Regions from separate parts of the Homo sapiens genome. Here region 2 is linked to region 1. A link means that fine-mapping ties the variant in region 1 to the plasma level of a protein whose gene starts in the linked region. Region 1 holds a variant in brackets. A gene starts in the other region. All regions are shown on their reverse strands.

Region 1 (2,927 bases):
TGAGTATATACCACCAACATAATGTGTCGCTGTTGATGCTGACCTTGGCCACAGGGCTGAGGTAGTGTTTCTCAACTTTATCCGCTGTGTGGTTGCTTTCCTCACCTTTCCATACGCATTCCTCAGCAGAACAGCACTCTGCATAGCTCGCACTTGCAGGGTGAGATGTGATCCTCCACTTCCTGGAGGGAGAACAGAATGTAAATTATACATTAAATGGAATGATTCTGCACAGGGCTTGCATCTCTTCTTCTTCATTTATTTATTTATTCAACCATTAATTGATAACAATATGGACACATGGATATTGGTCCTAAGCACTGGGTTATGATCCAATCCTGTGATAGTTTTTGGTTGCTCAAATTGCTGTGTATTTGGCAATCTGGGCTCCTTCAATTGGCTCTTGTGTCCCTTGGACATAACCCCCATCGTCGTCAGGTGGGTTTTTGGGGTGCTTTGTTTGTTTTAAATGCTGTCTTACTTACTGACACTACAAGATGCCCCAGGCTCAGCCTCCTTTTTCTGCCTCAGCCCTAGAATCACTTATTTCTGCAAGGGGCTTGGGCTTCCTTTGTTGGAGAATAGTATTAGAAGCCATGATCTGGGCAGGAGGTGTGCTAATTGCTACTGGGGTGTTATTGCTTCTGGGCTCTCTCAGCTGACAGAGAAAGGAAACATATTGCCACCAATATACACTTTATTACATTGTATGTCCTTAATGACTACCAAATTTCCTCCAGGCTGAGGAGAATGGCCTGGGATGAGGTACAAAGTACATGAGCCAATAAACTAGTAACTGAGAAATATTTCTACTAAACAGAACCCACATATAGCTTTGTAAAGCAACTGTAGAGGTCCTCAGAAGTTTCATGACTTGAAATATTTAAGATTGAACCTTTGCATAAGTGACGTGTCCTAAGAATGATTCATCTTATGAATTTTGTCCCAAAGCTAACTGTTACCTGCTGACTTCCACAGCTCTCTGTGCAAATGGGAGCTAGGTTATAATCCAGCTATCTTTTAATGGTTTCTTTTTTTATGCTTTCTTCATCCATGTGGTTGTTAATGAATGAAAGTCAGACTTCAGGAGTATATCTTGTATTCTGGACAGCTGGATCAAGTGCCTGGTGCATTCTAAATAATCAATAGACATTAGGTGAATAAATGAGTGCATAAGTAAATGAATTGCTGACTGAGTTATCATAACTAAACCAAGTAGGATATGTCATGAATAGAGTACTCTAGTTAATGGTACTTGGAAGTATGTCTGTCACTTATAAATACCCTCAGAAATTTATGCACCATGGTTTTAGAAGGCCTGGAGAAGAT[A/C]CCAAATTATGATTTTCCAGCCTTGGAGCTCACTTAGGGGCATATGAAAAACAGATGACATTGCCATGCCAGTGCCACCTTTCTCCAGATTGCTCCCAGGGCCACTCTTTCAGAGCCTGAGGGCTCTGATGATGGGAAAGCACTGGCTTCTCATCCTCCCCATGCTGTCTTCCAAAGCTGTTCCTATTCTCTCATGACTGATGATGCATGCAGTCACGTTAACTTTTCCCATCATAATTCCTTGGTTCATATTGCAAATGCCAACATCCAATTTATATTTTATTTAAGAACCAAAGTAGTTTTGCAAGATTATTTTATTTTCAAAGGCAATGGAATCACTTGTTTTCCCATGTTTTCAAAGTTATCTTAAGTAGTGTAATGGATCGACTCACACAGTGCCTTTCATCCTATTCCAGGTAACAGTGGATGGCAAATTATTTACCAGGGCTTTTAAACTGGGATCCACAGTGAAGCAGCTTAACATGCGGTTCATTCATCTTCCTCAAATTCTATCACTAGCCCCCTCCTAGCCAGTGTGGCTCTTTCTGCTTCTTAGCACTAGGCATTGAAAGTTTTCTTAGGCAGATGAAGGAGTGATGGGCTCTTTGTGGATGCCTGCAGTTCCAGCAGGCAGCTTTATGGCTTGTGCTCTGAGACGCTTGGATGGATTCTTTCTCTTTCCTCTGGGCCCACTGGTTAACCGTATAATACATTGCTTTATTCCCTGTCCCAGCAGTCAAAATGTGGGGCTTTGGAGAAAAGCCAATCGTGCATGCTCTTATGACACTAATCCAAATATGTGTTTATTCAAGGGTGCAGTTGTGCAACCTTTGTGCCCTGAGGCTCCCTGGACAATTGTGGCAGGCTAAAAATGGTCTGATTGGCCTGCATTTCTCACTGGAGAGCTAGGCTACAGAGTTCGTTTTGCTCATTACCGGCCTCTCTCCCAACCCAGTCTGCAGCCCTCCTTAGGGCTGGGTTGCAGCTGCAAACAGTGTTTTTGTCTACAGTGCCCTCTCTGAAAATAGTTGTCTTTGTTGTGACTGAGATATTTAGGTCTTTTTTCAGCAGCACCCTTATTTGATTGACTGATGGGCCTGTAAGTTATTTTTGAATCTGGGTTATTTCTATTTCTGATATAAGTTGCTAGAGGCCGCATAATTGCTCAACTCATCCTTTTTATTTGATAATCTATACTAAAAAAGTAAACTGTTTTGTTGTAAAGTCTACATTTTTTTTTCAGAAATATTGATGGTCAGAACCCAACACTGGGCGTTTCCCCCAAACATAAATTATGTTGCTTAGAGGTACAACATGTCAACATCTTTGTGTCTAGTGCTTTCACAAGAATCTTTTTTAGGATTCTTTTTCTGGAGGAAAAAATAAATAAAAACATATCAAATTCTCTTGTGTAAATCATCTGCGAGGCCCACAAAAATGAAGGGATGCTGTCTGTCAATGAAGATATTATCTGGAGGAATTTACATTAATAATTACATTGAATGTGGTGAATTGCTTGTCTCAATGACGAGAGTTTGATAAATTGAATTATTCACACTACACGGAAATTTAATTAGAGATGGTATCTTAGGCATAAT
Region 2 (2,927 bases), not on the chromosome of region 1:
AATGAAAATTATTCAATATCATTAAAACAGTAAAGTCAGTTGATAGAAATATATTTTATAGACACATTTATTTGCTCTATCATCAGCTCTTCTTCCTCTTGTCTTTAGAAAGAGATTGTTTAATTATTTGTGTAATTCAAAATGACATTAAGTTGATGTAGCAGCTCATAACACACTCTAAGTTTGTCAGGGTAGCAGATTGCACTGTGAGGAAAGCTTATCTGCCTCCGGGCTGGTGCCCTAATCTGTGTCTCATGTTCATTAGCAATGTGTCTGAATTAGTAGCCATCCATGGGCTGGAGAGTGAACTAATTTTTGCAACACTGACATTAATGGCTAACATTTATTGAATACTAAAATGAGCCAAGCACTGGGTCTAAGAATTTTGCATGCATTCAATTATTTGAGCCTCACAACAACCCTACAAGTTAGGCGGCGTTACTATGCCTGTTGTATAGATTAGGAAATAGACACAAAAAGATCAAATAACTTGCTTTAGAATTCACAAATATTAAGGGGCAGAACTGGGATTAGTATCCAGGCAATGTGGCTCTAGACCCAGTTTTCTTCATCAAGACTCTCTGCCACCTTAAATAACTTTCTATTCTTTTATCTTATTACAGAAAAATCCATGTACAGTTGACTTAAAGGCAAATCATATTTTATATTGGGCTCAACAAAATGATGTTCAAAATACTAACATTTAGTTACAAATAAAGGTATTTGTTTATATTTTGGTAAATATACCAACAGGAACTAGTGAGCTCACTTAAGTAGCCATTAGATTGGAAAAAAGTCAACATGTCTTTGGACTATTGATCTTATTATTATATTGTGAAAACAATAAATTTATGCCACTCTGAGATTTCTTGAAGAAAAACTTGTTTTTATGGGAAAAAATAATCTAAATATTCTTGCAATCTTTAAACACCTCAAGGAAAAGCTGGTATTTGGAGAAATGATTGTAACTATTAAATATATTCTAAAATCCTAGGCTATGTTTTTCTAAATTAATGCAATTAGAAGGATCTAAATTCTAACTATAGTTTACCCTTCCAAGCATTTTATAGATCAGGACAACGTAAGTAACTTATGAAATGAGTTAATGCTCATCAGTAGAAATATCAACACAGATGAGGTTTCAAAGTATGAATAAGATCAGATTTTCCTGATTGCAGTTTGTTAAGTGAAGGGATAGAAGAAAACTGAAGTCTGAGTTACTGTGGATCTTGATAATGCTAATAACAAAAAAAAAGAGAAAGTTGCTATCAAATCATCAATTTTAGTTGATGATTTCTAGAGCATGGTAACGCATTTCCTATTTTATAAAACAAAGCACCAAATATTACACAGTTTTGCTCAGTAGAGAAGATTTTCAAAAGTAATAAAACCATACTTGGGTGGCAAGCATCTTAAAAACGTAAACAACTATGATATAAAGCTATTTGCTGTCAAGAACATGAAAGCCAAATTACCTGGTATCTTTCACCTTCAGAATACCTGGCTTCTTGTTGCAGGATTAGAAGTCTCTGGGCATTTTGCTGAAATTTAAAGTTTGTTAGAGTTCCCAATGGCCAATCAGCACTGGCTCACTCAGCGCTAGCAAACAATTTGTTACAAGCGCCCACAGATAACCATAGGGGGTGAAGTAATTTTAATCTAAAAATGTGTTTGTGGTAGAAAGCTACTATCAAATGTTCCAGAAAGTGGGATAAACAGAAAATATAAATACCTCAGTTTGGACATCATGTTGTCAGATAATCAAAATTGATTTCAGAACTGCTAATTAGGACTGACTGAATACCTAACAAGTTTAGAAATGGAAAACATTTTTGCTATCCTTTTATGTAGAAAGTTTATGATGTCAATTTTATCTAAGTGAAATTCAGCAACATTTAACAAAAATGTTTTAGGTGCCTACTGTGTGACAGGCATTGGCGAAACTGCAGTGAACAAAACAAGACAGAAAAAAATCCCTGTCTTCCTGGAGCTTAGAATCCAATAAGGGAGACAGATAATAAACAAGATAAATGAGTTAAATAGATTAGATAGTGACATATACTAAGTCTAAGGAGAAAAAGTATTGTTGGGGAGTAACAAGCATTGGGGGTGGGGACACTGGGTTGAAATTTTAGATAGGAAGTCCTGGGAAGGCCTCAATGAGAAGGCAACTTTTGAGTAAAGACCTTGTTATGGTTTCAATGTACGTGTCCCTCCAAAATTCCCATGTTAGAACTTAAACCCAAGGTGACAGTATTGAGAGATGGGCTCTTTAGAAGGTGATTAAGTCATGAAGGCAGACCCCAGTATGAATGGGATTAATGACCTTATAAAAGGGCAAGAAGAAACTAGCTAGTCCCTTTTTGCCCTTCTGCTTGTCTGCAGTGTGAAGACACAGCATTTGTCCCCTCTGGAGATGCAGTAGCAAGGTGCCAAATTGGAAGAAGAGATAGACAGCCCTCGTCAGGCAATGAACATGCTGGCCTCTTCATTGCGGAATTCCCAGCCTCCAGAACTGTGTGAAATAAATTTCTGTTTTTTATAAATTACCCAGTCTGTGGTATTCTGTAGTAGCAGCATGAACAGACTCAGATAAGCCTGCAGCCATATGACTGTCTATGGGAAGACCATTCCAGGAAGAAGAAATAAGAAAAATAGTGCCCCAGAAATAAAAGCCTTGTGACTTGTTCCAGGAACAGAGAAGAGGCCACTTTGGTTGGAGGCCTGAGCAAGGGGAATAGCAACAAATGAGGTCAGAAGGGTATTAGATGGCAGATGGTATAGGACCTGTAGGTCATTGCAATGCTTTTGACATTGCTATGAGTGAGAAGAAAAGTCCTTGGAGGTTTTAAGCACAGGCATGATTGAGGAGTGACTGAAGTAGGAAAAAGGCAGAGAGAATGGCTAGGAAGCTCTTGTAATAATCC

Alleles and levels. Positions count from the first base shown, and alleles are read on the strand shown. Strength reflects both the effect of a copy and how common the allele is.
With allele A in place of C in region 1, the plasma level of the protein whose gene starts at base 1,521 in region 2 is higher (weak association).

Evidence for each region. A credible set is the group of variants that fine-mapping cannot tell apart. PIP is the posterior inclusion probability: the model's chance that the variant is causal. Protein levels are from antibody-based Olink assays in UK Biobank. Linkage for the fine-mapping came from a reference panel and not from the study's own genotypes, which makes the PIPs less certain.
Region 2: MEPE starts here. The variant in region 1 is the best candidate, but not a certain one, in a credible set for the plasma level of the MEPE protein (UK Biobank, PIP 0.75).

Annotation. Positions count from the first base shown.
Region 1 is chr13:22,450,715-22,453,641 of GRCh38, reverse strand. LOC107984599 (a long non-coding RNA gene) reads right to left here. Exons shown (of 3, transcript XR_001749779.2): 2 at 1-182. Among named protein-coding and RNA genes, the nearest start is that of LINC00540, 240 kb to the right of the region's middle. The variant A/C (reference allele first, on the strand shown) is at 1,330.
Region 2 is chr4:87,831,563-87,834,489 of GRCh38, reverse strand. It overlaps MEPE (matrix extracellular phosphoglycoprotein), which reads right to left and starts at 1,521. Exons shown (of 4, transcript NM_020203.6): 1 at 1,476-1,521.